Linked DNA regions of Homo sapiens. The protein of the gene in region 1 interacts with the protein of each later gene in a pairwise test. Each region holds a gene or a part of one and is shown in the gene's direction. Other genes may lie near its edges.

Evidence for each region. Proteins that work in one complex are often made in the same cells at the same time.
Region 2: the proteins of SOX8 (region 1) and JAM2 interact in a two-hybrid assay, tested with the Homo sapiens proteins (one large-scale study listed by BioGRID and IntAct).

What each region holds. Positions count from the first base shown.
Region 1 is NC_000016.10:980,391-984,569, forward strand, and holds the start of SOX8 (transcription factor SOX-8), read left to right. Parts: upstream 1-1,379; 5' UTR 1,380-1,532; coding exon 1,533-1,954; intron 1,955-3,337; coding exon 3,338-3,570; intron 3,571-4,179. UniProt on the Homo sapiens protein: Transcription factor that may play a role in central nervous system, limb and facial development. May be involved in male sex determination. Binds the consensus motif 5'-[AT][AT]CAA[AT]G-3'.
Region 2 is NC_000021.9:25,642,258-25,645,757, forward strand, and holds part of JAM2 (junctional adhesion molecule B isoform 1 precursor), read left to right. Parts: intron 1-590; exon of another isoform or gene 591-3,500. UniProt on the Homo sapiens protein: Junctional adhesion protein that mediates heterotypic cell-cell interactions with its cognate receptor JAM3 to regulate different cellular processes. Plays a role in homing and mobilization of hematopoietic stem and progenitor cells within the bone marrow.

The sequences.
Region 1 (4,179 bases):
TGGCAGGAAGCGGCAGCACGACCCCCGACTTTGCATCTGGACTTTTCTAGTAACGGACCAGCTCCTTCTGCCGACCGGGCCGGGGAGACCGCGTGGCTCAGTGGCTGCAGCGGCCACCGGCCCGGGCGTGGGGGCTTTGAGGGCACCGGCGCGGTAGGTCACCCGGGTTTCGCGGGCCGCAAGCTCGGAGACGCGCGTGTCCCGCGTTGGCTGCCTGACCCGGAATGGCGCAGCCCCTTCGCCTCCAGCGCGCTGGTTGAAAGGATCCGAGCCACCCTCGGGGACGGCCGGGCCGAGGCCACCTCGCGGGGCGGCCTTGGGCGGGGACCCGGACCCGCGGTTGGACGTTCGCCTCGGGGGGGGCAATGTCCCCTCTCCGACCCCGCGGTCCCCACCAGGGCGGCACACCCCGCCCTCTCCCCGCCTCCGCAGGCGCCCAGGGCTCACAGGCTCGGAGCGGCCTCCGCCTCTGCCGGACCACCCAGGGCCGCCCCGCCGGAGGGGCCTCCCCGCCCCCGAGCCCTAGGTCACGCCCGGAAGGCCCGGGGCCCCCGCGTCCGGCCACGCCATCCGCCCGGCGGCCCCAGGGACTCAGCGCCGGGGTCAGCGCAGGCCCCGCCCAGCGCTCCCGCCCCCTCCAGCTGGCCGGCCCCCGGGACCGCGCCCCCGCCCGCGCTCTCCACGCTCGCACTCGTATGGGCAGGGCGGCCCGGGGTCCCCCAGCTCCGAGCCGCGGCCCCTTGAAGCGCGTTACCTGGACGTGCGCTGTCCGCAGACTCTGGACGAGCTGGGCCTGGGCGCTGCGCGGCGGAACCGACCCTGTCCTGGACCGCAGGCAGCAGCTGACCCCGCGCCACCGGCCTGCGGGCGAGACCTCAGGCGCGAGACGGGCTGTGTGTGTGTGTGTGTGTGTGAGAGAGAGAGAGAGAGAGAGAGAGAGAGAGAGAGAGAGAGAGAGTGTGTGTGTGTGTGTGTGTGTGTGTGTGTGTGTGTGTGTGTGTCGGGGGAGGGGCCCGAGGACCCGCTTCCTAGCTGAGCGTCAGGACGGGGGGCGGACTCTCAGGAGCCGCGCGGCGCCCGCAGAGGAGAGGAAGCGCCGGAGACCCCCCTGCTCCCACCCGGCCTCCCTGCCCCGCTTCCTTTCCCGGGGCTCCAGAGAGGGGAGCTCCAGGCGTGGGGCGCCTGGCCCACGTGGTGCGGCGCCGGGCGGGGCAGGCGGGGGCGCGGCGAGAGCCGCGGAGCTTTCTTTATGGGTGGGGGGGCGGGGGCGGCCGGGCTCCGCCTCCGGGGGATCGGGGCGCGCTCCGCCAATGGGTAGCCGGGCGCGGGGCGGGGCCGCGGGGCCGCCGCTTAAAGAAACTTGTTGCGGGTCCCGCAGCGGGACCCGAGCCTCGGCGGCGGCGGCGGCGGCGGCAGGGGCGAGGGTCGGGGCCACCGCGCGGCGACCTCGGGTCCCGGAGCGACCGCAGGGCAGCCCCGGGCGCCGGCCCCGGTGCGCGTCTCCTGTGCGCGCCCCTCCGCGCGCGGCCCCGATGCTGGACATGAGCGAGGCCCGCTCCCAGCCGCCCTGCAGCCCGTCCGGCACCGCCAGCTCCATGTCGCACGTGGAGGACTCGGACTCGGACGCGCCGCCGTCTCCCGCCGGCTCCGAGGGCCTGGGCCGCGCGGGGGTCGCGGTGGGGGGCGCCCGGGGCGACCCGGCGGAGGCGGCGGACGAGCGCTTCCCGGCCTGCATCCGCGACGCCGTGTCGCAGGTGCTCAAGGGCTACGACTGGAGTCTGGTGCCCATGCCGGTGCGCGGCGGCGGCGGCGGCGCGCTCAAAGCCAAGCCGCATGTGAAGCGGCCCATGAACGCATTCATGGTGTGGGCGCAGGCGGCGCGCCGCAAGCTGGCCGACCAGTACCCGCACCTGCACAACGCCGAGCTCAGCAAGACGCTGGGCAAGCTGTGGCGGTGAGTGCCGGCGCCCCGGGGGCGGGGTTCGGGACCTTGGCCGCCCCTGGTCTCGGACTGCGAGCGGGGGCCTGGAGGGCGCAGAGCTCGCGGAGGTGGTGGCCACACGCAGGCTCCGGGCTCTGCACCCCGGGCGGGTGTCAGGGCGGGTCCCAGTGGAAAAACATCCTCTGGCCAGCCGGGGTCCGGCGCCAGCTATGGGAGTCGGGATCCGCGGAGGGCAGCGCCTGGGGTGTGCACCCTCGTGGCGGGTGCGCTCTGGAGCCAGTTCTCCTGGCGGGGAACACCCTGCGGAGGGCCATGGCTGGCACCCCGACGTGCCCTCCAGCCGTTGCGAGTGGCCCCAGCCCCGGGAGGCACGCCCGGCACGACAGCAAGTTGCATGCGGCTCTCTGGAGGTGCTCCCTCCTTAGAAAGGGCTCAGCTCCTCTAGCTCCTGGACCACCCATGGGGAGGGAGTGCGGCAGGCGGATGGGTGGGCAGCAGGTTTGCCTGCGAGTACCCTCCCCGCAGTTTCTCCCTCTCCTGGACACCCTCGGTCCGAAGCAGGGAGGGCAGGAGTGGAGATGACGGGGTGCGCCGTGTGCACGCCTTGGCGTGGTGGGGCCGGTCAGTTTTCCAGAAATTAGGACTGCAGAGTGAAGAACTTGTTGCTCAGGACAGGCCGCCCCCACCGAGTGTCCTCTGGTTGGGTTTCAAATGGTTCTCTTGGTTTGGGGCTCTGGTTCCCGTATCCTGCTCCTCACCTGGAAGAAGGGAGCTTGGAGCTTGCGTATTTGCACCTCCTGCCTTCTGTCTGGATCTAGGGCGCAGCCACGGGGCGCTGTGGACGGCAGGCCCCTGCTCCCCCAAGTCCTGCCGCACAGGCGGTTGGAGGTGAGCCTCGGGAAGAGTCCCAAGGAGTGTGTCCTGTGGCTCAGTGAGGACGGGCGCCTGGGCCCTGCCAGGGCTTCTGGGTGTCTGGGAATGGAGGGACAGCAGCCCAGCTGCCCGCCGAAGGCCGGCACCGTTCCCGGGAAGCCTCGCTTTTGTCCACCGCCGGCTGGGTCCTGCCCGCCTCCCCCGCCTCCCTTAGAAAGCCCCAGAGGGAGGGAACAGCAGGCCCGGAATAGGGGGAAATAGAAGGAGGAAGATGGGAGGCGTGGGGCTTGTTCTTCTTTGGCTGTCGTAAGCATACCAACCTTCCCAAACAGGCGCCGGCCGGTTCTCCCAGAGGAGTGTACTGCCTGGTGCCACGGGAGGCTCCGGAGCGCACGGCAGGCGGGTTTCCCTGGTCAGAGCCTCCTGGCCCCGGCCTCTGCTGCCGGTTCCCCCTGTGGTGTGTGCCTGCGCCGAGGGCACAGTGGGCGCCCTGGCCATCCCTGCCTCTGCCCTGTGCTGCAGCTTGCTGAGCGAGAGCGAGAAGCGGCCCTTCGTGGAGGAGGCAGAGCGCCTTCGCGTGCAGCACAAGAAGGACCACCCCGACTACAAGTACCAGCCACGGCGCAGGAAGAGCGCCAAAGCCGGCCACAGCGACTCCGACTCGGGCGCGGAGCTGGGACCCCACCCTGGCGGCGGTGCCGTGTACAAGGCTGAAGCAGGGCTTGGAGATGGGCACCACCATGGCGACCACACAGGTGGGCTCCAGGCCCCCCGCATATCTGAGGGTCCCTGTATGGGAGGCAGCTGTGGGGTTTCTGGCTGAGAAGGGTGCATGATGGTGGAGGGGGGCAGGCGCCCTCGAGAGAACCGGGCCTTCCCCGGGTTCCCTGAAAAAGCTCCCAAGGCCCCGGCCGCCCCTGTTTTTGGTGCACGAGGGACCTGCTTAGCCACCTTGAGTGCTGAGGGGCTGACAGCTTTGCTTGGCAGGGACCCCGAGAGGTGGTGTTTTCAGCAAGACTCAGTCCAATGCGGGCTCCTCTTCCCACACCGAGCTGCTGCCCACACGGCACTCAGCAGCCCCAGCTTCAGGGCCAGACTGACAGGGTGGAGTCCTGCCGGGGCCTCGGTCAGGCTGGCTGACGCCCGCCAGCCTCAGAGTGCTTGGCTGGCCCGGGGAGGAACAGGGTCTGTGTGGTCCCCCAGCGCCCTGTAAACCCCAGCTCTGGCCAGGCTGGGCCTGTCGGCTTCTTCCCCCCACCTTGGTCTCTGGGAGGGGCCTCGGGTCTTCTCATAGCACAGCGCTTCATGGAATTTTCTCGGCCGAGGAGTGAGGTCTAGGTCTGACTTTGCTGGAATTTCTGGGA
Region 2 (3,500 bases), on another chromosome or scaffold:
TCATAAATTATTTGGAGCTCTTCTGCATGGGAGATGGGTCTCTCCCTTCCCTTCATTTATTTATTTAATCATTTATTTTTCTATCAGTATGGGCTCATAAATATTTGTTTTATACTTTGGGTTATAATCCAATACTATTTTATTTATTAAAGACTTAGTGGATTTCTTATGCTGTTATTACATATTCATCTTTTTAATATTCTTCCCAGATGTAACTGTGCCATTCTTTTGGCCACTCCTATCATTTATAATATCATGCTTACTCCCTTCTTTCCTTTTTATCCTGCTGTTTATCAGCATTCTTTATATCTTTCTTAGTAGTCTGGAGGATTGCTTTTTTGTTGTTGTTCTTGTTATTTAAACGATGATGTCAGTATCCCTGTTGATATATGGATATTTTTGTGTGTGTTTAGTTGAATTACATTTTTCTTTCCCACTCCATTAGGAAAGGAATTTCTTGATGTTTGCTCACCACTATATGTCCAGTGCTGAGCAAAGTTCCTGGTTAATAGTAGGTATAAATATATGCCTGTTGATTCTATGGTGCCTTAGTCCATTCAGGCTGCTGTAACAAAATACCATAAACGGAGTAGCTTATAAACAACGTTTATTTCTCACAGCTCTGGAGGCTGAGAAGTTCACAATCAAGATACCAGCAAATTCAGTGTCAGGCAAGGGCCCACTTCCTGGTTCATAGATGGAGCCTTCTCAGGGTGACCTCCCATGGCGGAAGAAGCAAGGCAGCTCTGAGGTCTCTTTGTAAGCGCACTGTTGTCATGACCAGATCACGGTCCAAAGCCTTCAACTCCTAATACCATCACATTGGTGATTAGATTTCAACATATGAATGTGGGGGGACATAAACCACAGCAGATGGAATGGGGATGAGGTAGGGTAGGTAAAAGAAGTGTATAGATTGAACTGATTGCAATATAAATCATGAAGCTCTAACTTCATGTTAAGTAGGTGGAGTGTTAGATTTCTCTGAGGCATCATTTAAGCTGATATGTCAAAAAATAATAGGAATGAGTATTCCGTGTTTGGTGGGGTGTTGTCATGCCTTTTGGGGTCTCTCAGAGCCAAGGAGCTGATCATGAATCAGTTCCTGATTCCACCTAACCAGTAGCAGCTGGTCCTCAGATCTGGACTGGAACCTGATCCAGGCGCTTAGCCTGAGTCTAATCTCTCATCAACTGATAAAGATTGTGGTAGGGGAGAGAGGTCTGAATCTTTTGTAAAATCACAAGGTTCTGCCTTTTTGCCAGAACTGACCCAAAACAGCACTCCAGGGAACCGGTACTAGGAAAATTCTGCCCTCTGTATCTATTGTTAAGAAGCAACTGCCATAATCAATTTGCTGGAGAGAAGTGGTTCCGTGCTGGCACAGTCTCAATTATCTGATGAACAGAAACGCTAAAATGGGCTTGTAGGTGGATTTAACAACCATTTCAAGACTATGAAAGAAATTATATTAGAAAGAATGAAGTCAAAAACAAAAACTTCAGCCTGAGCACAGTGAGTTCCCTATGACTGAAAACACTCATTTATCCTCCCACATGAGCAGTTTAATGAGAGGAGCCCACAGGAGCTTACGGATGTTCACCACCCATGGTTTCCATTGCATTGGTTTCCTCCTGTGGGCCTTCCTCATAGAGAAGATGTATTGGAATATAGAGGTAAGAGCTGCTAGCTTTATTGAAGTCAGACCACCAGGAAGCTATAAAGGCCATTCTTAAAATAATATTTTTTCATCCCATAGCAATATAGTAGTAACACTGCTGAGTCAATACTCCAGTATACCCCTCTTGCTAGACTGATGTTTTGAGGAAGATGGTGGTGAAGATGGAAAAGGGGAATCAGAACCTGGGTCAGGTGCCTCCTTTGGCAAAAGCAGCAAAATAAAACTTAAAACCAGGGATTGTTTTCTTGGACGGTGTTACTGTTAACAAGGCTAGAACTCAGAAAAAATAACCCAACTGTATTACTTTTCTATTTCTGTGAAACACATGACCAAAAACAAAACAATACAAATTGATTGTCTTAAACTTCTAGAGGTCAGAAGTCTGAAACAGGTCTCACTGGCCTAAAATCAAGGTATCAGCATGAAGCATTCCTTCTGGAGGTTCTAGGGCAGAATCTGTTTCCATGGCTTTTCCAGCTTCTGGAGGCGCCCCACTCACGGCCCTGTCCTGCCAGGCTGCCACCTGTCCCCACTCACGGCCCTGCGACACCAGGCTGCCACCTCTCTTGTTCTCTCTCTTCTGCTTCCTTCTTCCACTCATCAGGACCCTTGTCATTACCTTGGGCTTACCTGAGTAACTCTGGATAATTTATCCATTTCAAAGTCAGCTGGTTAGCAACTTTCATCCATCTACAACTGCAATTCCTATTTACCATGTAAAGTAAGATATTTATAGGTTCTGGGGAGTAGGATGTGGACATCTTTGTGGGGCTATTATTCTGTTTCTCACAGCAGCCAAAATGAGGTTATGCACAGCGACAGTGTTTTCAGTGCTGTAGCCAAGAATATTCTAGATTCCATGAAGCCACCATAACTTTTACCTTTAAAGTATAACTCATAGTGATATAAAGCTGGTTGGTTTTTTGGTTTTGTTTGTTTGTTTGTTTGTTTGTTTTATTTGAGATGGAATCTTGCTCTGTCACCCAAGCTGGAATGCAGTGGCGCAATCTCAGCTCACCACAACCTCCACCTCCTGGTTTCAAGCAATTCTCCTGCCTCAGCCTCCTGAGTAGCTGGGATTATAGGCTCCCACCACCACGCCCACCTAACTTTTGTATTTTTAGTAGAGACTGGGTTTCGTCATGTTGGCCAGGCTGGTCTTGATCTCCTGACCTCAGATGATCTGCCTGCCTTGGCTTCCCAAAGTGCTGGGATTACAGGCGTGAGCCACCGCGCCTGGCCTAAAGCTATATTTTTTATTAGTTGTATTTCAAATTGCATAGTATGGTGGTAAAGAACATGCACTCCAATGCAGCACTCTGTGCTCTTACCAGCTGTGTGATCTTATACAGGTTAACACCTGTATTATGTCAGTTTACTCATCAGTGTTGGTGATAATCCCAATAAGAGTGCTTACCTCATAGAGGTTTAGGGAGAATTACATGTATAACACACTTAGTAAACTGAAGAAGCCATTGAAGCCTTTTGACATTGAATATCAGTTTGATTTGCATTTTAAAGAGAATGCATTGGATGGAGTATGGTGAATGGAAGGATTGGGGTGGGGGGAGTCAAACTGGGGAGACCAGTTAGAAGTTATTGGAGTAGTCCAGGCAATTGCTTGTGTAAGTACTTATTTTATATAGTTTATTGATAAATATACTCACATAATTACACATACACATATAACCACTGACAATTGCTTTTTACAGTTGTCACCTAATGATGCGATGTGTTCTGAGAAATGTGTCGTTAGGTGATTTTGTTATTGTGTGATCATAGAGTGTACTTACAGAAACCTAGATGGTAGAGCCTGCTG